Linked DNA regions of Homo sapiens: all the other regions are linked to region 4. Evidence: fine-mapped expression QTL. A gene starts in region 4. Each other region holds a variant in brackets. All regions are shown on one strand. Distances are between the middles of the regions.

Region 1 (4,271 bases), 67 kb after region 4:
TTGGGAGCAGCCACAGCTGCCAGTGACCATGCTGGGGGTGATGACGTGGCCTGTGTAGTGAGCATGCTTCATGGCTGTGGCGAGACGCATGTGTGCAGGGGCCTCAGCACTGTGGGGCAGTGGTGAGATCATGTCCGTGGGCTTCACAGCAGGGAGGCTTATGAAATGCAGCTTCCCAGGCTCCACCCTAGAGGTTCTACATGCTCATCTTGGGGGGCTCAGGGTTCTGCCTATGGACAGCCGTCACAGGTGGCTGTGATGCTGCATGTCGGGGCCCCATGCAGAGAGACACTGTGCGGGGCATGCTTGGGGGCAGGCAAGTCGGGGGCGGGCAGAGTGGAGGGGCATCTTCTCTCCTCCAGCCTCAGCGTCGGCCTGCACACCCCCTGTCCTGGAGAGTACCGTCTCAAGGGGCTTCTCTCCAGTTTCCAGGCATCCTCTGCAGCTGGGAGTGAGGAGGTCCTGGTGGGTGGGGAAGGCAACAGAGGGAGCTCATGGGGTGAGGGAGTATGGGGGCGTTGTGGGGAGACGGGAGTTCAGGGGATGAAGAGTATGGGGAAGAGTCGGGGGGCAGGGAGATGGGAGCTTATGAGGTAAGGGTGTGGGGGGCTGGGGAGATAGGAGCTTATGGGGTGAGTGTGTGGGGGCTTGAGAGACACAGGACTTAACGAGTGAGGGTGTGGGAGATGGGAGCTCTGGGGTGCAGGTGTGAGGCCCAGGGGAGATGGGAGCTTATGGGGTGAGGGTATGGGGGCCTGAGAGACAGGGTACCTAAGGGGTGAGGGTGTCGGGCCCGGGGAGATGGGAGCTCTGGGGCACCCGGGGGCTCCAGCAAGTGTTGTGGATCCTGTTCTTAGTGCCGGGGTAGGATGTTTTATGACAGCCTCTGACTCTTGTTTGTGGAGCTGACTCTAGGGTTGTGAGTGGAGCAGCTTGGGTAGGCACAGGAGAGGACACAGGGCGGCCGTTTGGAAGCCATAGCATTCGTCCCAGTGGAAGATGCTGGCAGTGGGGTGATGCTTGCAGCCTGGTGCACCAGGACGCCTGTTTCAGCTTTGAACGTCCCGTGTCCTGGGAGCCCTCTCAGTCCGGAACCCGCTGGGAGGGCTCTTCCCCCGGGTGTCTGTGTGGGTGCAGGTGGGACAGGAGACAGGTGTGCCGCCCCCCACCCACAGCCCCATGGGAAGAAGTGCAGGGTGGGGTGCGGCGCCTGCACAGGCATGGGAAGCCCCCGAATCCTGCCCTGCCTGCTGCTGGAAACAGCCCACCGTGAGCAAGGTGGGGGCTCCTGATAAAAGAAAATCTTGTTTGAGTCTGAGAGTGTAAATGCCAGGCCGCAGGCACAGCTGCTGATGGACACGCTCTTATTTCACCGGCCCCATTCCTGCTAACTGACTGTGTTGCCTCTTTCAGCATTGCTGTGTGCAGAGAAAATGGGGATTTAGCAATTAAGGATTTATTTTCTTCTGTTCAGCTCATCACTTGCTCCATCCAGGCTAATTAGACATCTCATTTCTTTGTTTCCAAGCTAATTTCAGCAATAGCAGATTTATTAGCTTGTTTAAACCTCAAACAATGGGTAAAGCAGCAAGATATCCCATTCTGCTCTGTTGTTTGAAAATATATTTCAAACTGAGTTGTTCATCCCCAAAGACCTTGTCTTTTCATAAATCTAGTGCCGTGGAAAATGATGCCCAAAGTGCCGAGCGTGTCTGTCTGAAGAGCGGGGGCTGTCGGGTCTGCTGTGCCCGCGTTCTGGCTGGCACATTCCTGCCCGGAAGCGGGGCGGGGTACTTGCAGGCAGCGGCTGCCATATCCCCGGAAGGAAGGACTTCTTCCCTTCATAGGTTGAGCACAAAGCGCCACGTTGTAGGGAGGGTGGGGAGGGCCGCCGACCTCTCACAGCCACTGGTGGGGCAGACATCCTGCACACCCCTGGGCTGCCGTCTCACCCCAAAAGCCTTGGCTC[G/A]CAGCCAGATTAATGAGCAGTGTGGCTCTGCCTGAAGACAGCTGTGCGGGGCCCCAGCTTTGTAGCCATGCCCAGAAGCATGGAGGGGCGGTGTCCAAGGACCACAGTGGTGCCCCTACGTTGCACAGCCCTCCCCTGGGGAGTGGGCCTGGGCTGGGGAAGGGGTAGCACTGGCTTTCAGGCCAGAATTTCTGTTCCCCATGGTCTCCCCTGCCTGTTTAGGGAAGAAACTTGGCCGTGGCACCTTCCTATTGGCAGAGTGTGGGTAACTTGGGTGTCCTCCTCTCTGTCCAACCTACAGCAGAGTCAGGAGCTGGAGGTGGTTTCTGCTGACCCTGCTAGAAAGTACCACCCCTGTGTGCACCCAGGGCCCCGGCAGGACAGCACGGAATGGGGTGCCTTGCTGAGCACACAGAGCCCGGGGACCGTCAGGAAGGAGTCTCCCGCTGGCAGCAGCTCTGCGTAGCCGGCTGAGCCAGGGCCTGCTGGGAGCCCGGGTGTCGTGCCTCAGCCCAGGGCCACGGGCTCCTGCTCTTAGTCCAGGATGCTTCGCTTTTGCTTCCGGTCTCAGAGCCCAGAGCCTGGCAGGGCTGCGCCCGTTTCTATGGTAACTGCAGATCCGTGTCCTGCCGCCTGTGTGATTGTGTTCTGTTCTCCTTGTAGATGGAGGAGATAAAATTTAAAGACAGAGCAGTCTTCGTGCTGGAGAGAGAGTTAGGGGTTCAAGCCGGGCATGCTCAGAGACTGCAGCTCCAAAAAGAGGCTCTAGATGAGCAGCTGTCCCAGGTCCGAGAGGCCGACCGGCACCCGGGCAGCCCCAGACGGGAACTTCCTCATGCAGCTGGTGCAGGAGACGCTTCAGACCACTCGGGAAGCCCTGTAAGCACCTCCCAGGCCCACCGGCCCACCCCGTGTCACAGACAGACCTGGCCATGTGGCTGCATGGCCCTGCATGGGCCACTCCCCCAGGAGACCAGAGCCCGAGTTGAGGCAGCACCCTCCTGCCTGGGCACCTCCCCACCCAGCCTGGCCCTAGGTGCTCAGCTCCTCTGGCTCTGGTCCAGAGGGCTGGTGGACTCGTCTCCTTCCTTTCTGTCTACATAGCATCAGCTCTGGCCCTGTCACCCTCCCGTGGGCCCCGGCCTCATCACCCTTCTGCTGCAGTTCATGGCACTTGCTGGCCCGGAGTCCGGCCCTGGGTTGGTGGGAGGAGGCTGTGCTGGGTATGCGCTGCCACCATCTCCAAGCACACGGCCTCTGCCTCTGGCCCGGGAAGGCTGGTGCACCGGCTCCCTGCCCACCGCGTGCCCAGCTGGCCCCTCAAGGGTGATTTCCGGCACTCTCATCACCAGTCACCCTCCCACCCGCTTCTCATGTGATCATGCCACTCTGCGCTCCTCCCTGGGCCGCTCTGTCGTGTGGGGTCTGCCGACCACCCCGGGCTGAGCTCCACCCGCTTCCTTGCTGCCGCTCCGCACTCATATCCTCTGTCGTGGTTCTGGGATGCGCTGGGGGATCTGAAGTCCAGGGACCCTCCAGCTGGTCCTTCTGGGTCTTTGACCCCGAGCCTCTCCTGCACCTGTTGAATGAGGAACTCGAGTCGGGCCCAGGACCATCCTGGATGCTGCTTGTTCGCTTTGAGGATAAAACTGTGTGTGAGCTGAGCCGGTCCTAGGACAGTGACATTTCAAGAATAGAAAATATTATTTTAAGATCTCATTCAGACAGCTTCATTGAATGAGATCCAGCCCCTCCTGCTGGTGCGTGGTAGACTACAGCATTCACTCCAGAGAGATCTGAAACCGGATTCAAATGTTTTCACCAATTTTTGAGTGAAGTCCCAGGGGTCCCAAAAGCGGCTCTTTAGAAGCCCCATTGGAGGCAGGTCACCTCTTTTGGAAGTCTCCCACAAGTGTCTTTCCCGTGCTCATGTCATCGTACCAGAGAAATGCCGCCCCGTGGGGCAGGGGGCGCGCACCCTCCTGAAGGGGCAGCGGCAGGGGCCAGGCAGAGGGCTGGGAGCTGGCAGACGTCCTCCTGGCATCACCCACACTCGCGGTTTCTGCATTTGCACGCCCCCGCCCTCTCCATCTGCATACTTCTAGACATGTCTGCTCCTTTTCATTATTTTACTTTATGTTATTTTAAAATAGTTGTGTGTGAGGTAGGGTCTCGCTCTGCCCGTCGGTTCTGTTGCCTCACGCGGTTGCGGCAACCACAGTGCCAGGCTGGGTGCCTTTCCCCGGGGGGCTCCGAACCTTCCCGGCAGCCGCGTGGAGGTAAAGGCGCGCGTCCCACGGCA
Region 2 (4,145 bases), 120 kb after region 4:
GTCTGCGCGGGGGCCCGGGGTGCAGAGATCAGACCCTGCAGCGGTTCCAGCGCTGGGGGGGCTTTAAAGCGAAGGAGTGGCTGAGGGCGGGGGCGGGGCTGATGGGCGGGGTGAGGCGGGGCTCGGGCTGGGGCGGGCCCTATCGGGGGCGGGGCCTGCCGGGGGCGGAGCCGGGGTGGGGGCGGGGCCCAGCGGGGGCGGGACCGGAACGGAGCCGTGCGGCCCCGCGCGCTCGCAGTCTGTCTCCCGCCGTCCCCACGCACGCGTCCCGGCTCACGCGTCCCCCCGCCCGCCCGCCCGCCCGCCCGCCCCCGCTTGTGCCGCCCCTACCAGAGACCCCCAGGAGCAGGATGTCCTTCCAGGGCAAGAAAAGCATCCCCCGGATCACGGTGAGCCCGGTCCCGCTTCGCCCGGCGCCCCCTGCCCGCCGCCCGGAGTGGGGCCTGGACGCCGGGCGGACCCTCCTGGTCTTGTGCGTGGGTGGGGGGTCCCTGCCTTTGCGTCTGGTCCCTGTCCTGGCGCCCGCCCTTCCCTGCTCGGCTCCTTCGCGCCCCAGGGTCCGAGAGTCCCCGCTAGCGCCGCGCAGACCCCCTTAAGGAGCGGGGCGCCCAGGCCCGGCCCGGCCCGGCCCTGCCCGGCCCTGCCGGGCCCTGCCGGGCCCTGCCCGGCCTTGCCCGGCCTTGCCGGCTTCCGGGAGCCTCGGCTGCGCCCGGGGAGAACCCGGGGCCGGGCGGCCTGTCCCTCGGAGCGCTAGCGGCTCCTTTCTCCCACGGCGGTCGGGTGGCGAGGCGGGCGGACGCGGCCCTTTGTTGGCCCGGGCTGGTCCGGGGCGCGGGGAGATGCCGTTCCCGGCGCAGCCCGTGGGTCGCCCGCCCCTTGGACGCACTGGCGCTGCGTCGGGAGCTCTTTGTCCGAGACAAAGCGATTTAGCCCCGGCCGCTCTGGCCGGAGTCCCTGGTGGCCCCGAACCCTTCCAGTAACCTGGGTTCAGCGACTCCAAGGAAAGCGAGCGGTCAAGGGCCACTGGCCGGGAACCCTGGCAGCCCCTGAACCTTCGAGAGCAGAGACCCCTCCCCAACACCCACACGCACCGGCGCGGGAGGTCCCGCTCTGCCAGAAACAAAGCCTCCCCGCTCGGGCGGGGGGAGATGGGGGTGGGAGGAAGGAGGCTTCGGGACCCGGCAGGACCTGGGCGGGGGAGTCCATGGGGTCCCAGACCCGACTCTGGACTTGGCCTCGGCGGGAGGGCCGTGGGGTCTGACCTCTGGCATTAGCTCGAGCCGTGGGCTGTGGGCTCCACTCCCCCAGACTCTGAGCGAGGAAGGAGCCCTCCCCTCTCCAGATGGGAGGGGCTGCTGCCTCCAGAGGGTTCTGCCCGGCTGGGTCTGGTCTTGATGCAGGAGGTCTTGCCAGTCAGCTGGCATGTGGGGGTCGAGTTTGGGGGTGGCAGGAGGACCCCTTCCCAGGGGAGGTCAGGCAACCATGTCAGTGCGGAGGGGCAGCTGCTTCCCGGGAACTTTCACCTCCATCCGGATGAGTGCAGTAAGAAGAGCACAGCCCCACACCCCAGCTGCGTCTCCTCTGGGTTCCAAACCCAGTCTCAGTGCGGGTGCCTGAACACTTGGGCGCCTATGAGCAGAGAGCCCAGACCACACGTCTCCTCAAGCCTCCTTCTGCCCGGTTGCGTTTTCTAGGGCTTCCTTGAAAATGCGTGGGTCCCCTGGGAGGGGTGGAAAGTGAAGAAGAGGGACAGCACCGGGAAGGCAGCCAGGGCCTGATGCGGCCACAGAGGCTCTGCAAATGCATGGTGGTGCCGGGTCAGGGCTGAGCCTGGCGCTCAGCTGGGACTGGGCAGGAGGAGGAGAGGTGCAGCGGCTGGGAACAGACAGCTCTGTAGACCAAGG[G/A]TCTAAAACTTCTTCCACAACCAGCCCGAGAGTAAATGTTGTCAGCTTTGCGGACCACGCTGTTCCTGTCTCAGCTGCTTGGCCCTGCCAGGAAAGCAGTCCTGGACATTTAGGAAGTCGATGGGCACCACTGTGTTCCAACAAAACTTCATCTGTGGATGCTGCAGTGTGAACTTCATAGAATTTTTGAGTCATGACATACTCTTGTTATTGTTTTCAGTGAATATACAAGAACGATTCTTAGCCTAGGGCTGTATGAAGAGAGGTAGAGGGTTGGGTCTGGCCTGTGGCATAGTCTGCCAACCGTTTGTAGACTATGGGGTAGAGGTTGACAAGTCACTGGGATCCTGAAAATACAGCCCCACAGTTAGATGTCAGCAGTGAATCCTGTAATGGAGTTCCTAGATAATGAACTCCTTCTCATTCTGAGAGTTTTACCAATTGTGCACTTCAGTTTAATGCTCTTGGCTTCAGACTGACGGTGCGTGAAGGCTCTAGCCCCAGGCTAGGGCCCTGGCCACCTATGGGTGGGCCCTGGAAACCCAGAGCAGGCGGCCGGACCTCCCTGTTAAATGCAGACGGTCAGTCCTGCCGGGTCAGTTGCAGGGCGTGCTGAGGCGCACGCCAGACGGTGGAGGGAAAAGCGTTGCCGAGTCCAGCCCGTGGGCGCGTCCTTCTCCACCTCCTTTCACTCCTTTTTTGTGTTTCTCTCCCCCATTCTCCAATGAGGTCAGATCTTCACCTCTGACGGTCATGCAGAGTCCCATCAGTGACACCCTACTTTCTGCCTAATCTTCTGCTTCCCGGCCATCTGGTAGGATTCTTAGAAGTGGATTTATGACTGCCAAGCACTGGAGTCAATCCCTGTCTAACGCCACAGCTCTGTGCTGCCAGGGCTGACCTACAAAGAGCGGGCCTCACCAGCCTGACGCTCTGTGTCCCACTGGGAGTGCGTCCGAGCTGCACTGGAACCGAGGTCACCCCATCTCTTCCCCATCACCCCCATGGCCTCTTGGTCAGCAAGTCCTGCCCTCCTGACTCCCAGCCTCTCTGGAATCCACTCTCCTCCCGTCCCTTCCCATAGTCCTGTCCCAGAGCCCCTCATCTCACTCAGAAATCACCCCAGCAATGATCCGGCTCCCACTGTTACCTGTCACAAGCTACTTTCTAACACAGCAGCCAAAGGTGATCTCTTTAAAACATCAAACCAGGATTGAAACCTGCTTAAGGCCCCCAGTCAGGGGGCAGCCATGGAGTCCCCAGGCCTACATATCCTGCCCCTGCCAAGCTCTGGGCACCGACTTGCCTCTGGCACCACCACCCCACCAGAAGGTTCCATCCCTCGGCCTCCTCCCAGGTCTGCTGATGGCAGCTCAAGCCCTTTCCTGCCCCAAGGCCAGGCTGCTTCCTGGCTGGAACGCTCGCCATGTCTGCCTTGCCCCTGTATCAGCCACCCTGGCCCCAGAGGTCCTTCTCCCAGCCCCTCTCTCATGGCCCTGCCATGGCGCCCTCACTGTGCTCTGCGCATTCGTCACCGACTGTGATGATCTGTGCACGTGTGTTTTTGCTGCCGTTGGTCTCCCCTCAGTGGGAGGCAGCCTCCTGGGGTGGGGACCATGCCTGTGGGGGCGCTGTCTGCCTCCGCCTCCTGGCACCATCACTGGTCTGTAGTGTTTGGGTGGAACCAAAGTCCAGCTCCGTCCGCTCCCAGCCTCCTCTGCGTGGGTGGAAGACAGGGTGGAGGAGAGCAGGATCTCTGAGGCTGCACAGGAGGCCATGAGGCAGCGTTCGCCTCCCACCTCAGGCTGGGGCTCCTCAATCCAGTGGTAAATCAGAAGATATAAATATGACCTGTGGCACTACCACACTTTCACCAACACGGGCTTTGCCCTCAGCGAGGTCTGAGCAGCAGCTGTGGGGCGTGCGTGGCACTTCCAGGGGCAACTGTTTTTGAGCGCCTGGTGCCACTTCTTGGGGAATAGTAAGCCGCTGCAGGCTTTTGTGCTCGTTTTTACGTCTAGAAATTTTGCCTGAATGTTTCAGTCATAATTTCAGAGGAAGGAGTTGCACCAAGAGTGTTACTGAGTAACTCAGTTTGGAGAAAAATTACCCTTTGTTGTTCCCGATAGAGTGACCGCCTTCTGATCAGAGGTGGGAGGATCGTGAATGACGACCAGTCCTTTTACGCTGATGTGCACGTGGAAGATGGCTTGATAAAGTAAGTTTCCGCCGAAAATGAAA
Region 3 (4,271 bases), 140 kb after region 4:
GCAGCCTGAGCCCAGGCACCCCAGTGCCCGCTGGGCCCAGCCTGGGGACAGGGAACCTGCCGGGCTCACAGTGTGGGAGCAGCTGGACACCAGGCTTCTTGGTGAACCGGCGAGGGGCCGAGTCCCGCCTGGTGGGCATTTGCCGCCGCCTCCCCACCACCAGTCACTGCCTCGCAGAGCCCTACACTCCCGCAGCCGCTCCTCAGAGGCCTGTGCCCATCGCAGGCCTGGGAGGAAAGTGGGCGCAGAGCCCTCCTGCTCACACAGCTGCTGAGACTTCAGGGACCCATCAGAACTTGGTGCAGCACAGCCCCGCCCGTGGAGGGTCCCTTTTACGCACCCCAAGGCCCACACCTAAGCTTCCATGTAGCCCTCATCCAGGGAAGTTTTGCGATCCTTTAGGAAGACACTGTCCTCTTATTACAGATTGTGTATTTCCGTAGGCTTCTTAGTAGCAGCTTTGTACACTGAGGACACTGTAGCCAGGAACCTGTGCATGCCACCCACCGCCTGGACAGGCAGTCATCCTGCCTCTGATGTGAATCAGGCCCATTAAAGACGTCTGGGTTTGAAGCCGCCTGTGCATGGAAGGAAGGCCCCGTCTCCTCTCCCCCACGCCGTCTCTGCACAGGCGGGGCCTGGCTGGCTGTGGGCTGGTCCGACGACTCCTGCAGCCGCAGCTCTTCTCCCCTCAATGGCAGGGAGGAGCGCACCCTCTCACAGGGAAGAGGGCCGGCAGGGCAGCCAACATCCAGGGCGGGGCAGAGGGCAGCCAACATCCAGGGCGGGACAGAGGCCCCCCCCCCCCCCCGCCTACATTCTCACCGGACAGCCCGAGCCACCCCAGAAGGCCGGGGAGCATGCACGGGAGTGTGTGGAAGTGAAGCACACACCACCGCCACCCAGGTGGGCGCTGCTCACAGACGCAGGCCCAGCACTCAAGGCCGGGCAGCTATGAGGCTGACCCGAGCCCCCGGTGTGTGACTGCGGTGCTGGCGCGTGCTGTGTCTCAAAGGGTGCGTGGACGTTCCCAGACGGTTGTCCTCATCCCAAGAGCGGGGCCTGGTCGCAGTCACTGGGCACTCGCTGTTTGTTGAGCAGAGAGCCAGGGACACCTTGTGCCACCGGTTCTCTGGCCCCTGCCCATGCACCGATGGTGACAGAGAATTTCCTGCCGTGGTCTCTGGGAACCACAGACAGGCCCATCTCTCACCCTGGGCTGCTTATAAAGCTGTGCAGATCCCAGGCGAAGGCCCTGGGCCCTCAGCATTTCCTTCCCGGGGCTCCCTCTGGCCCAGATGTGGGAGCTGATGTCCCCCACACCAGCATCTCCCACTCTGCCCCAGTGTGGGGGGCGATCAAGGGAACCAGACAGCACCCACACCTCACCAGTGTCTCGAAGGAGGACAAGGTGCACCACCCTGCCATGTTCCCCAAATGCACTTATTCAAACCCCCACACCTGTCCTTGCCCCGAGCCTGTCTCTGACATCGCCAGACTTCCACCGAGTACACGGCGCCTCTGGGCCCTCGCAGAGACCGGGCCACCCTTCCTGGTGGTGATTTGGGTGCCGTGTCCCCCATGTGAGCTGCTGAGGGCTGGAAGGCTAGTTTCTGCCATGATTCAGAGGACAGGGGTGGGTGGGGGACGGGAAGCTGCATTCTATCCCCTCGGACTTCTGACTCTGCTCGTGGCATGGCCGGTTCTTCCCCAAATGTTCTTTGGCCGTTGTCATCTCCATCTCGCAGCCCAGCCAAGGACGGGAGGGCCCTGTTTGCCAGGGGTGCAGTGGGGCTCATGGACACAGGTCTAGGCACATGTCCACTATGGC[C/T]GCTGTCCTGGGAAGGGGCACAGACCCGCCACACCCATTTCCTCAGAGGAAACCAGCACAGGCCTGTCTGGAGCGCTGGGCTGATGGGCTGAGCCCGTCCTCCTCCAGCGAGACCAGAGAGAAGCACACAGGCCGTTTACCCAGTTAGTTACAGTTCCAACCACAGAACCACCCAGCCACAGTGAGAGGGATACGTCCCTTTATGGAGGGCCAAGCACTGCCCGGCACTGCGGTGGCTCCACGGTGCACGGTGCTGTCCTGGGCTCCTCTGCCTCCAGGACCGTCTCTGCCTTCCACAGCCTTACGGCTCCAGGGCCACGGAGACAGGCACCCACCCCAAAGCCATGGTCCGGGAGCTCTGCCCTGAGGAGCTGCCCACCCCACTGGCTGCCCCAAGTCCAGGCCAACCAGAAACGGCAGGCACCGGCCTGACGGCCAGGCAGACACAGGACGTACGCAGAACATGCAACATCGAGCGGTTCTCACATTGTAATTCTCAGAGGTGAAAACTACAGAAATTGCTGGAGCAGTTTGAATCTCTAGAAAACATTCACCTCCCCACCCACTACCCCAACCCATGCCCTTGACCTCCAAGACCTGAGCCGAGCCTGGGGCACCCGCGGCCTGTGCTGCAAGGGTCACCTTGTGACGAGGGCCGTGCACAGCCTCCGGGCTGAGCAGGGACAAAGACTCCTGTCCCATCCATGGCCCCAGCTCCCCGTGAGCGGTAAGAGGGCGCCCAGCAGCGCTTCCTCCATCTAGGCGGGTCTCGGGGGCCCACGGGAAATGCCCTCCACAGGTGTCCCCTGCACCCACAGCCTCTTGTCCCCTGCACCACCACGAGCCTGAGGTGTGAAATGTGTCCGGGGCACTGTGGGCACCGCCAGCCAGGCTGGGTGGGAACGTGAATGCCAGGCCTCGGCCCATGGCCCTCCCTCTGGCAGCCGAGTCTCCAAAGCAGCTCAAGGGGTGAGGACCACGGGCGTCCCGGCCTAGCCGCTCCCGGCCGAGGGGCAAATGGGGCCGCACATGGGCAGGGCGGAGCGTTCCGCCTCGTCCTCCACAGGCTCCGCAGCATCCCTGGACTCAGGGGCGGGGAGAGGCTCCCTCGGGAGGTCCTGGCTCCTCTTCAGCCTGGGGTGGCAGGAACACATGGAGGGCGTTATGCCCCCACCTCCCTGGCCTCACGGTCCCATGACCTGCCCACGGGCTCATGGGGTAGGCCATGGCGTGGATGCCCAAACGTGGGCCACAGGCTCGGTGTCTGCTGGAGAGGCCATGCTCCCGATACACTGGCAGGGAGCCTGGGGACGGGTGGGGGCACGTGAGCATGCTGGCGAGGCTCGGCGTGTTTCCAGCCAGAAGCCGAAAGGCCTGACTGTGCAGGTGCCATAGGTCAGTGACTTGGGAATGAGGCTCGGCTAAGCCTCATTCTTCACCCGGTCATCTGATCCCCAGGGTGCCAGTCAGTGCCCTCAGCCGTCTGCACGTGCTGCCCTGCACGTCCTGTCCATAAGAGCTCAGACCCACCTCCTCCAGGAGGCCCTCCTTGCCCCGTGCGGGCAGAGGGAGCATCCATCCTCCCTTGGGCCCCACCGTGGCAGCTGCTGCTATTTCTGGCCTGCCTTGCCTGCTGCCAGTCATCTGTGCCCTTTCTGTCCCCTGGGGCCTGACATTCAGGAAAGGTCTGCTGAGAGACTGAGGGCGTGCCTGGGTGGGGGAGTTGACGTGGCTCTGATGGGGCCTCCTAGGAAGTCACCACCCCTCATCTGGGCAAATGATGTGTCTCTCCCCAGAAGATTCCAGCCACGGGCCCCGCGTGGAGCACAAACATGCCAGAGCCTGGCAGGGGCCTCCCGCCGCTCCCCTCCATAGCTGCTGCTCAGAGTCCCCAAAGAGAGCAGGGCCACGCACCCCAGGCCCACAGGTGCCCGCTCACGTGGCCAAGAAAACCTTAACCTTAGCCCCATTTTCCTCCTCTCTGCCACCACGCCCACCCACCCCCAACACACTCACTTTTCTCTGTTAAAAATCACGAAGTCTTGCTGGATGGCATCGAGGCAGTCTTGAAGATAGTCATTCTCCTGTGGATGGAAAGGCACACGTGAGCGTGGGGGACGCTGTCCAGGTTCCGCCCATGTCCCCTCAAGTGAGTGTCTGGGCATCCCCATCGGGCCTCCACCTGTGGCTTTGGATGACGGCCTCTGGGCTATTGAAGTGCCCCGGCCCTCCAGCAGCCAGACTGCCCGGGAGCTCGCATCTCTGCGGGTGACTCACCCAAGCCCGAGGATGCCAAGGCCCAGCTCCCTTGCCTCTGGGTGGATGGCTTGGACTTGCTCCGTGGGGCCTGCAGGACCAGGCAGAAGCTGTTCTCTGCGGGACTTTGCTGGAAACCACTCCCTTGCCGGGCCTTTCCCGTCTCATACCGGGTTCTCCCAGC
Region 4 (4,271 bases):
ATGCTATTTAAAGAGCAGGCTGCTCCCTAAGCTGGAACGCCGGGTGTCAGCCCGGCCCAGCACCCACCTGCTCTCCGCCTCAGCCAGCGTGGGGATTTGGAAGGGACAGTGTCTCCCTCTGGGCTCCGGGAGAGAACGGACCGTCTGCAAGGGGCACGTTTACTGCAGGAATCAAAAGCACATACACGCATGTGCATCTGTTTGGAAATGAAAGTAGATGTTTTTTCTGATTCTAAAAATATTGTTTCCAATTCTACAAAAAAAATACATACAATTCAGAAAGATACAAAACAAAATATCAAGTCACCTGAGATCCTATCACCTGGAGCTATGGCCACTTTAGAGCTTGGTATCTACGCTTTCAGGCTTTGTTTTTCTTGAGTGCAACACACACAGGCACGCGTTTTTAAAAACAAATAATGTGATCATACTATACACACTTTTTTAAACAGAAATGTGAGCATACGATACCAGCTTTTTTATGGCTGACTTTAAAAAACTTAAACAATAGGTTGTTTACGTCTTTCTGTTAAGCTTGGACTGGGGACATTTTTAAATGGCCCCATTGTATTTGGACGTATGTGCGTTTCCCATCGCTTGTTAAATCACTCCTCTGTTGGACGTCTAGGATGTTTCCAATTATTCCCTGTTATATTATGGACAACACTGCCGTAAGCATCCCTGAGTGAGTTATATTTAAAGGCTTACAACAGCGCCTGGCACGGGGTAGGTGCTATAAAGTATTTGGACTAAAGTCAAATCTGTGCACACACCATCCTTGTGTTGTTTCCCCAGGATCAATTCCAGCAGGAGGACAGCTGGGCTGAGGGGGCACTGCCCTCGTCAGGAAGGTTGTCCCCGTGGCCTGCCTCCGACTGAGGAGGAGCCACCCTCGGGGTCGGGCGTGGACCCCGAGCCGCCGGCATGGGAACCCTCTTTGCTTCAGGGCAACACGGGAGGGGTCTGGATCTCCGACCCACCGTTCCGGGTCTGAATCCAGCTCCGGGACCTGACAGGGATGTGATTGTGGGGCAGCCGCATGGCCTCTTGGCGCTCCAGCCTCCTCCCCTGTGACATAGAGGCAGCGATGGTTGGTAACCAGGGACAGCGGGCGGCTCCGTCACACGAGTCAGGACATGTGACCCTTGGAGGGTTGTTGCATCACCCTGGACGTTTGGCCAGACGTGTGGCCATGGTTTTAATCAGGACAATTTTTTGCTTGCTCTAACTTATGAGGGTGGCCAGATCTAGACAGACAGCAGAAGTAACCCGAAGTCCTGGCCTGCCCTGTGCCATCCTCTGACATGTTATCATCGGCGTTCACTCTGTGGGCTCCTCTCGGGGTGATGCCTGCCGGTCTCAGCTTTGGGGTGAAGTGACATTTGGCCTTGACTAGAAGAGGCAGGTTGTGGGGGGCAGGCAGGGTGCAGGCGAGGGAACTGAGGCAGAGCGGGCTGGGAGCAGGGGGGATGTAGGGTCCTCCCAGGCTGACCCCCAGAACCTGGGCGTGCAGGCCTGCTCTGGGGTCCAGGCTCCGATGCAGTCTCAGCGCAGGCCCTGGTGGCCGGAGACAGGGCAGGGCAGGAGCTTCAGGCCACCCGCACCGGCAGCCCTCAAGGCTGCCTTGATGGAATCGGACCCAGATGGACTCTAAGCGGCCTCCTGCTTGGAAACCCTGTCAGACCCTGCGTTTTCTACAGAGCGGCTGTCACACGGCTTTTCCGGACGGTGATTATGGACTGCGTGTGGGATTGGCGGGCCAGGTGAGCTCTCGTGCTTGCCCTTCACACAGGAATGCTGCTGGTCTCCTGTGTCTGGTTCCCGTCTGCATTTTCAGTCCTCAGTGTTGAGTGTGTGCAAATCCCTTCTATCACCTGACATTTAAAATAGATACCCTCAGAGTGGAAGTTCGTTCCTATTATTGACCCGCTCACTCTGCAATCTTGAAGGGGGTTCTCCAAGCAGGAGGGAAAGCCGGCCAGAACGCGGTCCTGGAGCAGCCAGGAAGCCGAGGGGGCGGTGAGGGCAGGGATGGCCCAGCCGTGGCCTCTGCCGCTCGCTGGTTTTCACGTGAGACTGCCGCCGGGCCAACCCGGAGCCCAGGCCGCCTCTGCATCTGAATAGAGCCAAGCTGCCTTCAGGATCTCACCTGCGTGGCTGTGCCTTCGGCCGCCCGGCCGTGCAGAGCTGCGGGCCCCTTCCCCACCGAGAAGCGTCTGTTCGCGCCCTGCAGGGAGCTGGGCTGGGGGCTCAGAGGATGCCTCTGTGCTTGGCCTTAAGGTGCACAGGGAGAGCTTGGGCGATCCTGGCTCAAGGGCTCTGCTTGGAAACAGCTCGGGGAAATGGTTCCTCCCCCTGGATGTAGTCACAGCGTGGTAAATTCCATCTGAAAAATAAAAGCCGAGCTCTTTGCTGAGTCATAGAAGCTCGGAGCTGATTTGCGCAAAAGCCGGACTGAGTCTTGGACGAGCCGGGAAAGATTCTCACAGTCGAGCAGAGCGATGGGAGAGAGGAGCAGACAGCGAGCTTTGGAATGTGAGTGTTTATTTTCTGACTGCTGCAGAGGCTTTGTTGGTTTCGGTTTGGCTGTCTCTGCACAGGCTCTTTCCACCTGGTGCTCTTCTGTATTTAGTGCGCACACGTATGTGGCTGGAAAGTTGACAGTTTGGGGTCTGTCCTCTGAGGGGTGCAGGGACGATCACAGAGGAAGATGCTTCATTTATCCGTTTTCACGTTCATGCTCATGCACACATTTGGAGGAGGCTTGGGCCTGCGTTCCCAGTAGTAGGTTTCTCCTTTAAAGCATGGGTGTGTGTTCCATCCCATATGTAAAGCGGATGCTTGTTGGCACGGCAGCCGTGGTGGGGTGGGTTGGGGAAGCCAGGCTGAGTCTGTGTATTGCCGGCTGTGGTGAGAATCCCACGGACATAGCACCAGAGAGCTGTCTGCACAGCCCGGGAGGCCTGCGGCGTCCGGGTGCTTCCTGGCTCCGTGGGGTAACCGGCTGGACTTTTTTGCTGCTTGTTTTCCTTTTGAAGAATAGGTCATCTTTATGGCTTGAGGCCTCACCACCTACCTGCGCATTGATTGGATGGTGTCTTCTCTTTAAAACTTAATCAAGAATCACACATCACTCATTGATATAACTTCTTATGCAAGGAACTCCAGGTTTTTGGGAAACAACAGCTTATTAACTTACTAATTCACTCTTTGAGGTTATTGCACCATGCCTCAGTTTCTACAGTTGTTCAAAGAAAATCCACTGCTGATTGGGACTGGCAGGGCTGCGGTGGAAAGGGTGTCACAGGTAACTTGGCAGTACGTTGTTGTACTGATGCTTATTGAGATGTCAGTGAGACTGGCCGGGAAACCATGCAGGCACCCTAGGGATGTAAATACTTGCTGCTGCCGTTGATTTTGTTGTTCACAGTGTGGGAGAACCAGTCACAAAACGGTTTTCTCATTCCAAGCCAAGCCTGGAGTAGTAGACTTGAGAGTCCTCTCAGTGGATCGGGCCTTTGAGCAGGTCCGTGGTAAAACGCCACCTCAGTTCCCGAGAAGAGCAGCAGAAGAGGAAAGTGAGCCGGGCCGAGGAAGGACCCTCAGTTTACATTCACAGCATTACCGGCAAAAGGCTGGCGTTTGGATGAGGTTCCCTAAGAGTCCCACAGAGTAGATCAATATGATCAATATGTGCTTGGAGAAGACAAGACGCCTGGCACATTCACATTCCTTCTCCAAGGCTGAGGGTGGGGGGAGGGCATTGGCATTCCTGCTATTCCCGAGGTTTCCCTGCCTCTCCTGTGAGTTGAGGGCACCCCTGTGAAACCTAAGGGCACGCTGTGGCAGAGAACATGCACGGAGCTCCTGCTTCTCTCCCGACAGCCCTGGGAAGGCCTTACTACTTTAGGTCCTAACTAACAATATCCAAACGACCAGGTGGTGGTCCCACAGCAAGGGAGCTGTCAGTCAGAGCTGTGCCTCTGCCCCCGTATTTTGGATCGAGCTCCTCCAAGAGAAGTAAGTGTCCTATACATGTTCTTGGAAGGTTGATCTTGACTGTGGACTTCCGTGTGGACTGTGGGCTTCCGTGTGTACTGTGGGCTTCCGTGTGGACTCTGGGCTTCCGTGTGGACTGGACTGTGGGCTTCCATGTGGACTGTGGGCTTCCGTGTGGACTGTGGGCTTCCGTGTGGACTCTGGGCTTCCATGTGGACTGGACTGTGGGCTTCCGTGTGGACTCTGGGCTTCCGTGTGGACTGTGGGCTTCC
Region 5 (4,271 bases), 76 kb after region 4:
GTGTGTGTGTTTGTGTGTACATGTGAGTGTATATGTGTCTGCATGTGTGTATGTGTGAGTGTGTGTGAGAGTATGTGAGTGTGTATGTGTGAGTGTGAGTGTGTGTGTGGCTTGTAAGCTGTCAGCAGTGTTTTCTCGCTGTTAGACTGTGAGATGCTCCTCGGTCACAAACACTTGCCCTCTGAAAGGTGGAGAGGAGGAGCTGTCCAGGCTCTCCCCGCTCGGGACCCCTCTGGGATTTGGAAGTGTCCAGCAGACGCCTTGGCCCTGTGAAGGGAGGACACAGGGTGTGGGGAGGCACACAGGACAGGGGCCAGTGGTTGGCGGGGAGTAGGGGAAGTCGGGTGGCCCTGGGGTCCCTGAGGGAGTTTTGCTGGAAGGTTCTGGCAGAAGAACTGGGAGGAGACCTGGAGGCCACTGTGGCCACGGCAGAAGGGACTGAAGAAGATGGCGGGCTTTCCATTTTGTAACACTTCTGAAGGGGACCCAGATGAGTCCCTCTTCGATTCTTGAAGGCAGGGGTGAGGGGGCCCTAAAGATGCAGACGTCGGGGTGAACCTGGAGGGTCCCCAAAGGCAGGGCCTCTCACACCAGCTGGCGGAGGACCCCGTTTTTGTTTGTATTCCAATCAGTCAAGGACTGAAACTTTAAAAAATGGAACAGAAATGCATCACTGGGAATGAGATCACACAGGGAAGGCACCCATCGTCGGTTCTGTTAACCCGGGTACCACCCTCAGGGAACCGCAGGGACGGTGCCCCACGAAGGGCCTCATTCCCCACCACCAAGGGCAGGGCCAGGACCCGCTCACCCACGGGACTCCAGGCCCCTTCCCCACCCGCCCTGCCAGCCTTGCCATAGAGCGCCCCTCACACCCAGGCCACCTCCTCGGCCTGTGCCAGGGACAGAGATGGGAGTGTGTCGCAGGGTGGGGCTGCGGCCCCCACCGTTGGGCAGCGGGAGGAGGCGGCGGGAGGAGGCGGCTGTGCCTGGGTCTGGTTTGAACTGACACGTCGCATTTTGGTCACAAGCCGGTGGTTGTGGAGACCTTCTTTGGATACGACGAAGAGGCTTCCCTGGAATCCGACGGCTCCTCCGTCTCTTACCAAACAGACAGGACGGACCAGACCCCGTGCACCCCGGACGATGACTTGGAGGAGGTAACGAGGGTCTCCTGCCGGGTCCTGGGCTTGGAGGAGGTAACGAGGGTCTCCTGCCGGGTCCTGGGCTTGGAGGAGGTAACGAGGGTCTCCTGCCGGGTCCTGGGCTTGGCTGGGCATGGGCTGCCGGCTTTTCACGGGGAAGCCCTTCGCGGCCCTCACTGGCACTGACCCGCTGATAGCTGACTCGGGCACGGTGAGAAGCTCCCATGACATGGCTTGGGGTGTGGGCTGAGGCCCGCTCTTGCTCCCATGAAGGCCAAACCATGCCTCCTTCTGCCACTGAGCCTACGCCCCTTCTGCATAGGGGTACGGTGAGCTCTCCCTTCCTAAGGGGCCTCCCCAGGAGGGTCTGAACCACTCATCAGGGAGTTTGGTCTCAGTGCCAAGAGCACATTAGGGTGAGGGGTGTTGAGCAGGAGTTTTCTTTCTGATAACAGCACAGGTGTGTCTGCCCACCAGCCCCTTCTTCCAGAAGGACGGCTACCCTCAGGCGCAGGCAGCCATTTCAGCACCAGGTCGGGGCTTGGTGTTGTGGGACCCAGACCCTGTGGCTGTGGGACAAGGAGTGGGGTCTGCAGTCAATGGCACAGCCAAGGATTGGGCCTCCCGTGGCAGACCCTGGAGGGTGGCCCAATGGCCATAGACCTGTTGAGGGATCTAAGACATCCTCTCACAGCCTCAGGTGCAGGGTTGGGCAGGGGAACTGGGCCAGGCCAAGGCTTCTGGGCTCAGTCACTCCTAGACGTGGCCAACCCTTCCAGCCCCGGGGGTCCACCGGGACCCTTTGAAGGCAGCAGCAGGCTCACCTGTCTTCTCCCTGGGGTGACGGGGGGCACTGCAGCTAGCAGGGTGAGCCTGCAAGAGTGCACCTGGGAGGAGACGTGCTGCCTGGGGTACTTTACCCCCTTCACAAAGCCCAGCTTTCTTCCCAGGACGTGTTTCAGCAGAGCAGAGCGTGTGCAGGCCTGGTTGGTAACAGAGGGTCTGCTGGGTCAGGGCAGCCTGGCTAGCAAGCAGGAGCCCCAGCTGAGCCCCTGGCCATGGCCACCAGCCCAGCAGGCTCACCCTGTCCTCAGCCGTGCAGCCGACTCAGCTCCCACCCCAGGGCTCGGTGCTCCCCTCCCCAGGGAAACCTTTCTCCAAACAGCACTGAGTCCCCAGGCAGCCGCCCCTCCCTGCACACTGGAGCAGGTCCCCTCCCTCATGCTGCTAGAGAGACCCCCCCATACACCATTTGATATCTGGGGAGAAGGGAAGCCCCGGGGCCCCGCCATCGGAGGAGGTGCTGGCTACTGACACTGTGTCTCTGTGCGTGTGTGGCATCCGTGTCTCTCCAGGGC[A/G]TGGCCAAGGAGGAGACGGAGCTGAGGTTCCGGCAGCTGACCATGGAGTACCAGGCCCTGCAGCGTGCCTACGCTTTGTTGCAGGAGCAGGTTGGAGGGACGCTGGACGCAGAGCGAGAAGTTAAGGTCTACGTGACTTCCACCGCGCGTTCCGGCCCCCCTCGTGCCTTCCCGCTTGACCCCGTGGCCTGGGCTGGGACACCCCCCTCACTAGCCCTCCTGGGCCCGGGCCCCTCCTCTCCTGCCCTTGCCTGCAGTCCTGGTGGTGCCCATGGAAGCCGATCAAAACCAGGGATTGGGGATCCCGGTGCTGGGAGTTGGCCCAGGTGGGAGGGACTGGCCCAGAGCGGTGCCAGGCACAGGTGTGAGTAAGGGTCCTGGGGGAGGCGGGGTGGTAGTGGTGGCAGGGGCCCACAGCGCCCAGGGTGGGCCTCCTTCCAGACCACCTCTTCCACTCTTGGCAGCATGGCGATGGCCCGTGGCAGCATCGAGCTCGGTGTTGAAACTTGTGGAGGTCATTCATCCTCAAAGGCTGAGCTCACACAGGCTGTGCCTGCCCCGGCCCCGGCCCCGGCCCCTCTCCCCCGGCCTCCCCACTGGGCAGCACCCCAGCAGCCGTGTCCCTCCGCCCACTTCCCTGGCTCACCTTAGCGTCGTCCCCCAGGAAAGGCCTCAGTGTGGCTGGCGGGTGCCCTCTGCGGGCCGTGGAGGGCAGTGCAGGCACCAGGCCTCGTGGGGAGAGCGTGGGCCATGGGTCGGGGGTCCTCTTGCCGCCCCACCCTCCCTTACTGAGGCTCGGAGGGGAAGCCGCTGGAGGACCTGCACCTGGTACCCCTCACAGCGAGACGGGCTGCTTTCCGGGGGAGCTGAGGGGTTCTCCAGAGCAGGCAGCTGTGGGGTGTGGGGTTCCCGTTGGCCTCCCCACCCCAAAACCACCCTGCAGGGCCAGAGATGCCAGTGTCTGGCAATTCTGCAACTTAGGGTGGCTGAGCTGGGTGGGGGACGGACCTCTTGGGGCGAGGGGAGAGTGTCCACAGAGCATCCCCAGCGTGGTCCACGCTAGTGCCCCAGGGAGCCGCCAGCCTCATCCTCTGTCCACCCAGACCGCCCTGGTGACGTGGCTGGTTTCCCTCCTGCCTTCCTGGCACCTCATTGGGGACGTCTGTTGTGAAAACTAAGAGAGAGCTCCACCCCTCTGTGCCCTCCTCCTGTCCTGAGTCGGGGTGGGGGGGGCTGGCCTTGGAGGGGGCGTCCCCTCCTCAGGCTCGGAGAGATTTGTCTCCGTAACTGGGGACTTTAAATATCGCCTCTTTCACTTTGACTTAATTTTTGCATGACCCTTGGAGAAAGGAAAAAGTCAAGGCCTCGGTTCAGAGCATCATAAAGCACAGCAGCCCCGAGACATCCCAGAGCCTCATGGGCCCAGCCTTTCTCCCTCACAGCGGGGGCGGGGCAACAGCCGCATCCTCCTGGCCAAGCTCGCCAGGAGCTGGAGGAGCTGGAGAAAGCATCCTGTCTTCCCTTTTTCCTGTCGGGTGCCAGAGAAACATTTGCTCGGGGGCCACATGGAAGCAAAGAACTCAGAAGCTTTGCTTAGAGAGTAAAAATGTCCAAACTGCATGTAAAAAAAAGTTTAATGTCATTTAGAATCAGAGGAAAATCTGATGCCGAGAAGTGCTGCATGGTTATTTTAAAAACTAGAAGATACAGAAAAGATTAATGAAGAAAATAGACTAGCCGGCATCCCACAGTCTGATTCTGTATTATA
Region 6 (4,271 bases), 160 kb after region 4:
TCGTGGTCACCTGTCCTGGCAGCCCCAGAATACCAGCATGCCTGAGTGAGCATGAGGGCTTCACGTGGCCGTCCCCGCACACACAACCAAAGCCGGCACACCTGGGCGAGTGTGAGGGCTTCACGTGGCTGTCCCGGCACACACACCTGATGCTGACGCACCTGGGCTAGTCTGAGGGCTTCACGTGGCCATCCCCACACACACAACTGATGCTGACGCACCTGGGCGAGTGTGAGGGCTTCACATGGCCGTCCCCACACACACAACTGATGCTGACGCACCTGGGCGAGTGTGAGGGCTTCACATGGCCGTCCCTGCACACACAACCAAAGCCAGCACACCTGGGCTAGTCTGAGGGCTTCACGTGGCCATCCCTGCACACACTCACAACTGACATCAACGCACCTGGGTGAGTGTGAGGGCTTCACGTGGCCATCCCTGCACACACAACTAATATCAACGCACCTGGGCAAGTGTGAGGGCTTCACGTGGCCATCCCCGCACACACAACTGACACCGATACACCTGGGTGAGTGTGAGGGCTTCAGATGGCCGTCCCCCCACACACAACTGATGTCGACACACCTGGGTGAGTGTGAGGGCTTCACATGGCCGTCCCCACACACACAACTGATGCTGACGCACCTGGGCGAGTGTGAGGGCTTCACATGGCCGTCCCTGCACACACAACCAAAGCCAGCACACCTGGGCGAGTCTGAGGGCTTCATGTGGCCATCCCTGCACACACTCACAACTGACATCAACGCACCTGGGTGAGTGTGAGGGCTTCACGTGGCCATCCCTGCACACACAACTAATATCAACGCACCTGGGCAAGTGTGAGGGCTTCACGTGGCCATCCCCACACACACAACTGACACCGACACACCTGGGCTAGTCTGAGGGCTTCACATGGCTGTCCCTGCACACACAACTGACATCAACGCACCTGGGTGAGTGTGAGGGCTTCACATGGCCATCCCTGCACACACAACATCAACGCACCTGGGCGAGTGTGAGGGCTTCACATGGCCGTCCCCACACACACACCTGATGCTGACGCACCTGGGCGAGTGTGAGGGCTTCATGTGGCCATCCCTGCACACACAACCAAAGCCAGCACACCTGGGCGAGTGTGAGGGCTTCACATGGCCGTCCCCACACACACAACTGATGCCGACGCACCTGGGTGAGTGTGAGGGCTTCACATGGCTGTCCCGGCACACATACCTGATGCTGACGCACCTGGGCGAGTGTGAGGGCTTCACATAGCCGTCCCCGCACACACAACCAACACCAGCACACCTGGGCAAGCACGAAGGCTTCACATGGCCATCCCCGTGCACTCATAACCCCAGCCCTGGTTGTCCCTGCCCACCTGCTTCATAAGGAGCGAGGTGGGGGCTGGGAAAGGCAGAAGGGAGGTCTCTGGCCTTCTCAGGACTTCAGGAAACGGTCTGCTGGACTTCCGAGACGTGTGCGCTGCCAGGGGTCCCCACACGCCTTGCTCGGTGGTAGAGAGGAGCCCCAAGCCCAGCCCGCCGCCGCGCCCTGAGCCTGCCCTGGCACTCACGGACTGGGAGCTGTCCCTGCTGTTGTCCCGGGACTTGTTCTTGGCCAGACGCTTCTTCTTCTTGTGCAGGGGCCTGGACTCCAGGATCATCTCCTCCAGCTCAAAGGTGGGGTCGCAGTGCAGACGGCCTTTCTACAGAGGGATGGGTGCTGAGCCCCGGCCCGTGGAGGACGCCACATCCATCCCCAGGGCCCCCCACCTGAGCCGCCCACAGGCTTACGTTGGGCACGAAGCCCGGCTCCACCCTCTTCTCGCTCAGGTGGTCCCACAGCACGCCGGCCAGCGCCGGGGCTGCCTGCACGTCCTGGAGGCTGGAGAGCCGGTGCTCGGGGTTCACAGTGAGGAGCTGCAACCAGGCATGAGTCAGAGGGTCCAGGGCCCACAGCCCACCAGCACGGAATAGCCCGCCACCCCCAGGCCAGGGCACCTTGAGGAGGGTCCCACCAAGCCTGAGGTTCAGAATTCAGGAACCTCAGGGCCA[C/T]GCGAGGAAGGGTGGTGCCGACGGCCGACATCAGGCAAAGCACCGTGGCTGGCTCAGCATGTGGCCCAAGGGACGCCTGTTCTCAGTGCTGCTACCTAAACCCCTGGCGCCAGAGGACAGCAGAGGGATCTGCAGGGAAGGCTCTGCTGGGATTTGCCAGGAGGTGGCAGCCGAGGCCCGGCTAGCGGCTAACACTCGGCACATGGCTGGCCTCACAGTAACTATCCCAGAGCCACTTCCTTCACCGAATCATGGGACCTCCACAGGCCAGATGAGCCCGGGGCAGCCATGCATGGCCTGGGAAGCAACATCCCAGCGCTGGCACCTCCCGCCTTTCCAGGGAAAATGCCGCAGACCCAGACCCCGTGCGAGGTTTCCCAGACCTGGGCTTGGGCGTGTGGGTCATCCCCAGTCCCCACGCAGGCCCTCTCTAGCCCAGTGCCACCTTGTGAGCCACCTGGGCAGGTGTGACTGAGCTTCGTGGGGCTACAGCAGAGTTAAGAGACTCTCGGGGCTGGGGAGAGGCCCCGGCAGGCAAGGCCTCCCCAAGGATTTAGGCTGCTTGGCTACAATTCCAGGGCAGGAGGCCCCACCTGCCTGAGACACGGGGGCCGGGAGGCAGCCGGGCCCGTGTGGCACACTCACTCCCCTCCCTGTCCTGCCTGGGCCTGGCTCTGACTCCGAACCCCCTATGGTGTTAATGCGAGGCTCGGAACAGGGAGCTGTGCAGCCCAGTCAAGGCACAGCCCCAGCCTAGCACCAGATCACAAATGGGAGGCACTACTGATGGCCACACCCCTGCCCGTGTCCCTGCCAGGCTGATGTCCCCTGAGAGGTGTTTGCAGTGGGCAGTGGCTGCCCACCTTCCCCAGGAGGCACTGGGGCAAAGGGTCCCGGAGATAGCATGGGCTTGAACCCACCCACCCGACACCCTCCTTCCAATACGTGGGACAAGGGGACGTGGCTCAGGGCTCCTCTGTGGTGACCGGCAGGGCGGGCGCACAAGCCTGCTGTGAGGGTGCCTGGAGACGCAGCTCAGGGGATCACCAGGACACCAGTGACCTGGTAGGGCTCGCCATGAGAGGGCCACAGAGCCTGCCACCAGCTCGCTTCCTGGGGCTTGGGGCTGCCATCTGCGGAGGCCCCCACAGGTTGCAGTGAAGGGATCTGTGCCTGCCAGGAAGCGGCACTAACTGTGCACTGGAGGGGGTGTCCCGAGCCGCAGGTAAGTGAGGGAGGGAGGTGGGTGCTCGGAGGGTGAGGAGGCTCAGGGATGGGGGCTCACCTTCCGCAGCAAGGCCACCATCTCCTTGGACCACGTGGGGACATACTGGACGCTCACGGTGCTGAACAGCTGCACCAGGGACTCCACGGCGTTGCTGGAGTGGATGTCATAGGGCCTCTGGAGACAGGGAGGCAGTGCTGGGCAGGTCCTCCTGGCCCCCAGGACACCCAGAACAATGCCAGACACAGGTGCCATCGCCCTGAGAGGACCCCCTCCCCCCACCCCAAGTGCAGGCACAGCTCTGAGCACAGCCTGGCCTCCACCTGCCGCGGAGGAGCCTGGGTGAGATAAAGCTTACGCCTGGGTCCTGCGCCCTGGCTGCTGCGCCCATCTGGCTGGGATCCCAGGGGGCCTGGGTCCAGGTAGATCAGCCCCAGAGGGCCAGGAGGGAGCTGGCTTCCTCAGAGGTGGGGTCCTGTGCAGGGCTGAGGGGTACGGTCCACAAGAGGACCCCCAGCCTCCCGGTCTCCAGGACTGGCCTCGCCGTGGCCACAAGGGTAAGAGCACAGGGCCCCAAAAGAAACTTTTTGTGGAAAGTTCCGAGGCAGCACCCCTGCTGGCCAGTTCTCAGCCTTGTCCACCCCCACAGAGGCTGGCCTGCAGGCACCAGCAGCGGCCCCGGGAAACCACAGTGAGTCTGTCCTTCCTCCTCCTGCTCAGGCATTCCATCACCAACTACACACTTCGATAAAAGCGTGACTCCTCAGACACAGTGGAGACATCCCTGCGCACCTGGACACTGGGGCAGCCACCCCCTCCCCAGCACTGGTGGGGGCAGAGAGCAGGGGCCTGGCAGCCAAGCCCAGGGGCTGCAGGGGGTCCATACCCATCCTCGCAGCAGCTCATAGGCCATCACCCCCACCGACCACCAGTCCACCTCGAAGGAGTAGCCGGTCCCGCCGTTGACAAAAGAGTGGAAGATCTCCGGAGCT
Region 7 (4,264 bases), 100 kb after region 4:
GACTCCAGGCCACGTGGGGAAGCACCCACTAGCACGCAGGGGCACCCGGCCTTGCCGGGAGGGGACACAGTGTTCTGGGGGCTGGAGCCTCAGAGGGCAAAGCCTCTCCCCAAACCAAATGTCTGTTTCATTTTGCATCTTAACCTAAGGATATTTGTTTGTATTAAATACTAGAAAAATGTGAGGGCTAGGCGTGGTGGCTCATGCCTGTAATTCCAGTACTTTAGGAGGCCTAGATGGGAGGATCGCTTGAGCCCAGGATTTCAAGACCAGCCTGGGCAACATAGTGAGACCCTGTCTCTAGAAAAAAATTTTAAAACATAGCTGGACATGGTGGCACGTGCCTATAATCTCCGTTACTCAGGGGGCCGAGGTGGGAGGATCACCTGAGCCTGGGAGGTTGAGGCTGCAGTGAGCCATGATTACGTCACTGCACTCCAGACTGGGTGACCGACTGAGATCCTGTCTCCAAAGAAAAAAATAGATCAGGTGTTATTTCTTAAATCTAGCTAAATAGCTCTTCATTCCCAAGCGATGCCCCACTGCCCGATTTTCTCTCGTGTCCAGATGGGCCTGGCTCCCGACCCCCAGCCCAGAGTGAGACTGTGTGCGCTTTGTCTGCTCAGGGTGCTGGTTGTACTTTGCTGCTTACGGTGGGACTGAGACCACAATATTCTCACAGGCCTGCTTTTGTTTGCTGGGCACTTGGAATGTCTTTCAATACAACGTTCACCATTATTATTACCCCATTGGTGCTCTTGCCAAAAATTCCTGCAGCAGGTCTCAGCGATGGGTTTCACTTCAGGGAGGAGGAGACCCAGTCCCCGGGAGGCTGGCCTTGTGGTGCTGGGGACACGCTGGGTGTGGGGCCCCTGACCAGCGCCCACCACCCGCATCTGCCCGGTGCAGAGTCCCCAGTGCGTTCCTAGGGGTGGCGGCACCACCCCTCAGACCCGGGGATTTGGGCAGCATCCCTCCCTCGGCACAGTCCTTAATAGCGTCCTCTCCTCCCTGCCAACAGCTCTGTCTTCAGTCTGTAATCGCGTGTATTTCTTGCCAGAAGCACTACAAACTCTTTTTTCTCTTTCTTTCCTTCCGTTTCTCCATCCTCCCCTTTCCGTTTCAGTTTCTATTTTTGTTCTTATTTTTCTCCTTAGCTTTCATTCTCTGGTCATAGTCCGTCTTGGCACCCTGACGTGGTGAGTATTTCGTTGGCAGGGCCCAGCAGGGGTCCCGCTCTGCTTCCCGGAAGACTCCTCTGCCCCTGCCCTGCCAGGGAGTTGCCCACCTGCCATTCGATCAACTGGAAGGCGATGACCCAGCATCCCCAAAAGGGTTGTTAGAAAGCCACCCGCGTCCTTCAACACTGGAAGTCCCTCCCTGGGGGTCAGGACCCGGAGTCTTCCACTGTAGAGGCCGCAAGGTGCTCACCTTTCCTGAACGGGAAGGAGAGCAGGGTTCCCACCACCACCCCAGTGTAGCAGAAACATGCAGGACCCTCTCTAGGGGGTCTTTCTGCTTTGGTGGCACTCGGCAGCAGGCCCTGGGGGCAGACACGGTGGTTCTGTGATTCGTCCTTGTTCTTTTCTGGGTGGTGCTGAGCACAAGCTCGGGCGGTGCTGGAGATTCAGCCAGGAGGGCTTGGTCTCCCTGCCAGGCCGGGCAGCTTAGGCCAGGATAGCTGGAGTCTACAGGTCATGGCTGCTGCTACCATGGCACCCGCCAGCATAGATGGCTGCCTCCTTCCAAACTGGAGGAGGGGCAAGTAGGACGTCACATCATTGTTCGCCTCGGTCCTCGAGTCTGCACCCTTCAGCAGGTCCCGAGAGGAGCTTCCCCTGGGAGCAGGGCTCTCCCTCTCCATGAAGCCCCTCATCCCTCACCCCTTACCCCTCACTCCAGCCAAGTGGAGTCTCCCTGACATCCTCTCCACGCAGCCCTTCGGTCCTCACCCCTCACCCCTCGGCCCTCACCCCTCGGCCCTCGCCCCTCGCCCCTCACCCCTCGGCCCTCGCCCCTCGCCCCTCGGCCCTCGCCCCTCACTCCAGCCAAGCGGAGCCT[C/T]GCTGACTCTGCACTCTACGTTTCATTTCTTCCAGCCCCACATTGAATCGGACCCTTTTCCTCCAGTGGGACCAGAAAGCAGGGACAAAATGGGACGTCGCGTCTCCATCCTGAAGACCCAGGGAGATTTGGTCTCTGCACGCCCGTCCCGTGGAGGAAGAGTGAGAAGGGGCAGTGTGTGGGGCGTGGAGCTGCCGTCCACGTGGGATGTGCCAGAACTAGAACTGGCTCTGCCGACTTCTCGGGGGCTTCTCCGGGACGGGCCTGGCCTTGGCTGCTGGACCCTGGGTCCCTTCTCCCGGACGGCAGCCCCCATCCCATTTCCAGGGATGTGTAGCATTCCCTGCCAAGCAGGGGTGAGAACTGCTTCTGTGCAGAAGCACCAGCCGCGGGTCCCCTCCTCTCTCTTGGTTCTCACAGTAGCTGCCACTGGTGTCTGGAGGAAGATTTTCAGAAACAACAGAGGCTTGGCCTGATGACAAGATGAAAGCTGGACGGTGACCTTCATTCAGGGGAACCTGGAGGCTCCCTGGGATGGTCCTGGGAGGGCTCCCCGACGCCTCAGGGGCCCCTCCGATGCTGCAATATGTTGCTGGGGTCCTGAGCACCCGCTGGCCAACAGACCCCACATCCACCCTCGTTCATCATCATCTCTGTGGGGACAGACAAGAGCCGTGGCCGCCGCGGGCCGCGTGGTGCCATCAACCCTCTGCCTCCCTACTCAACCTGAGACAGGAAGGCCAAGATCCCGCCCAAGCCGCCAGCTGGGAGCACCGCGGGACTGAGCCAAGGAAGGCGTGGGGAGCGTGGTGACAGGAGGTGGGACGAGGGGGCGGAGCTGGCTGGAACACGGATGCCAGAGGCTGCCTCCATAGTGAATCTCCAGAAGTCACAGAGGCCCTGGGCACCCAGAGCCACCCAGCCTGGAAGCCCCTGCACGGGCCAGCCCTGCAGGCCATGGACCCCGGCGGGCACCGAAGCCTCACCCCAAGCCTTTGCACACAAGGAGCAGCCCAGGTGGGGATGGCGGGCGCAAGAAGGGAACCGCGGGGACGGCCTTTCCCCTCCCGCCCTGTGTGGGGACGCTGCACGAGCCGTGGACCAAGAGGCTGACAGGTAAGGGCTGCCATCTGTCCGCGGGGAGGGCCTTTGCACCCTCCCTGCGAGGTGAGCTCCAGCTTCTTCACACCTCTGTGTCCCCGTCTGCACATGCGTGACGCTGCCACCCCGTCCACTGCTGACCCGTCAAGATCACCTCTCCCGCCACTGACGGGACAGGGCCTGGGGGCTGGTGTGGAGCGTGGCGTGAGCTGTCGCTGGGGCAGGGTCTGCAGACATGGTGCTCCACGGGGACCTGGCGTCTGGCAGAGCTGGTCCTCCTCCCACTTGCAGGAGGAGGCTTGCGGGAAAAGGGAGAAACCCCGTAGGTGCAATGAGGCCGCTCTCCGAGTGCGCCTCCCTCCGCTGCTCCCGTGCACTTGAACGTGGACGCCGCCCCACACTCGGCCCCGGCACCTGAGGTGTCCGCTCTGGGGAGGCGACTCTGGGTGCTCCCAGCAGGGAGGGAGGGAGGTCAGGACTCTGGGCATGCTCCACCGTGGAGCTTTCCTCGCCAGCGGGGTTCCCTATGGGAGGGTTTGTGGATCCGTTGTGTCTGTGGGACTCAGCGGGGCCCTGGGGCAGGGTGAGCCGGTTCTTGGGGAGGCAGTGGCAGCCCCATGGGGGGCCGCCCAGGGAGCGCTCCATCTCCCCCACCTCCGACCCACACCGTGTCTGAGAGCCACCTGTGTCTCCTGCAGTGGGCAGCGGCTGTGGGCCACGGGCACTGTTGTTCCCGGGAGATGCTCCCTGCGTAGAAAATGGGAGGGGGAGGAGGAGGTGCGACCACCACCCTGGACTCAGGAGAGGGCGGCAGCTCCATCTTCACCCTTGACTCAGGAGGGGTCCGCAGCGAGGAGGAGGTGCGAAGGGGGCGGCGGCTCCGTCTTGCAGGTCCCCTGGGGCGCGTTCTTCAGGTGCGTGGTGGACGAGGCGGCGTCCTCGCGGGGTCGGGACCTGGGTACCCAGCAGCATCTGGCTCCTGCATCCACCAAGGGCGCCCAGGCACAGCCTCAGGCCAGAAGGTTCGCTGCAGAGGTTCATTCTAGAAGGAGCGGGAGACCAGCAGTCCCAGCCCTGTCCAAGGACGCCCGCTGCTTGGCAC

Which allele goes with the higher level. Alleles are on the strand shown, and positions count from the first base shown. SD is a standard deviation of normalised expression in the study named. Not every link is listed here.
For the expression in cerebellum of the gene that starts at base 2,420 in region 4, allele G in region 5 goes with a higher level than allele A (large effect, 0.88 SD a copy in GTEx).

Evidence for each region. PIP is the estimated chance that this variant, and not a neighbour inherited with it, causes the effect.
Region 1: its variant is fine-mapped to the expression of JAKMIP3 in cerebellum (GTEx, PIP above 0.99).
Region 2: its variant is fine-mapped to the expression of JAKMIP3 in whole blood (TOPMed, PIP above 0.99).
Region 3: its variant is fine-mapped to the expression of JAKMIP3 in whole blood (TOPMed, PIP above 0.99).
Region 5: its variant is fine-mapped to the expression of JAKMIP3 in cerebellum (GTEx, PIP above 0.99). The same link has a PIP of 0.9 or more in adrenal gland, aorta, caudate, cerebellar hemisphere, cerebral cortex and hippocampus.
Region 6: its variant is fine-mapped to the expression of JAKMIP3 in whole blood (TOPMed, PIP above 0.99).
Region 7: its variant is fine-mapped to the expression of JAKMIP3 in blood mononuclear cells (TOPMed, PIP above 0.99). The same link has a PIP of 0.9 or more in whole blood.

Annotation. Positions count from the first base shown.
Region 1 is chr10:132,130,680-132,134,950 of GRCh38, forward strand. It overlaps JAKMIP3 (Janus kinase and microtubule interacting protein 3), which reads left to right. Exons shown (of 24, transcript NM_001323087.2): 4 at 2,633-2,848. Among named protein-coding and RNA genes, the nearest start is that of JAKMIP3-AS1, 54 kb to the right of the region's middle. The variant G/A (reference allele first, on the strand shown) is at 1,970.
Region 2 is chr10:132,186,714-132,190,858 of GRCh38, forward strand. DPYSL4 (dihydropyrimidinase like 4) reads left to right here and starts at 235. Exons shown (of 14, transcript NM_006426.3): 1 at 235-389; 2 at 4,034-4,122. The coding sequence starts at 351. JAKMIP3-AS1 (JAKMIP3 antisense RNA 1) reads right to left here and starts at 39. Exons shown (of 4, transcript NR_184044.1): 1 at 1-39. RefSeq lists an enhancer at 954-1,455. The variant G/A (reference allele first, on the strand shown) is at 1,905.
Region 3 is chr10:132,205,187-132,209,457 of GRCh38, forward strand. DPYSL4 (dihydropyrimidinase like 4) reads left to right here. Exons shown (of 14, transcript NM_006426.3): 14 at 1-573. STK32C (serine/threonine kinase 32C) reads right to left here. Exons shown (of 12, transcript NM_173575.4): 11 at 3,848-3,915; 12 at 2,306-2,965. The coding sequence ends at 2,824. Among named protein-coding and RNA genes, the nearest start is that of DPYSL4, 20 kb to the left of the region's middle. The variant C/T (reference allele first, on the strand shown) is at 1,832.
Region 4 is chr10:132,063,527-132,067,797 of GRCh38, forward strand. JAKMIP3 (Janus kinase and microtubule interacting protein 3) reads left to right here and starts at 2,420. Exons shown (of 24, transcript NM_001323087.2): 1 at 2,420-2,535. RefSeq lists enhancers at 1,197-1,944, 4,219-4,271.
Region 5 is chr10:132,139,420-132,143,690 of GRCh38, forward strand. JAKMIP3 (Janus kinase and microtubule interacting protein 3) reads left to right here. Exons shown (of 24, transcript NM_001323087.2): 10 at 1,032-1,160; 11 at 2,501-2,629. Among named protein-coding and RNA genes, the nearest start is that of JAKMIP3-AS1, 45 kb to the right of the region's middle. RefSeq lists enhancers at 2,229-3,076, 3,077-3,923. The variant A/G (reference allele first, on the strand shown) is at 2,504.
Region 6 is chr10:132,221,068-132,225,338 of GRCh38, forward strand. It overlaps STK32C (serine/threonine kinase 32C), which reads right to left. Exons shown (of 12, transcript NM_173575.4): 7 at 4,166-4,269; 8 at 3,340-3,456; 9 at 1,794-1,919; 10 at 1,574-1,705. Among named protein-coding and RNA genes, the nearest start is that of DPYSL4, 36 kb to the left of the region's middle. The variant C/T (reference allele first, on the strand shown) is at 2,055.
Region 7 is chr10:132,165,857-132,170,120 of GRCh38, forward strand. It overlaps JAKMIP3 (Janus kinase and microtubule interacting protein 3), which reads left to right. Exons shown (of 24, transcript NM_001323087.2): 22 at 1,127-1,199; 23 at 2,097-3,177. The coding sequence ends at 1,177. Among named protein-coding and RNA genes, the nearest start is that of JAKMIP3-AS1, 19 kb to the right of the region's middle. The variant C/T (reference allele first, on the strand shown) is at 2,062.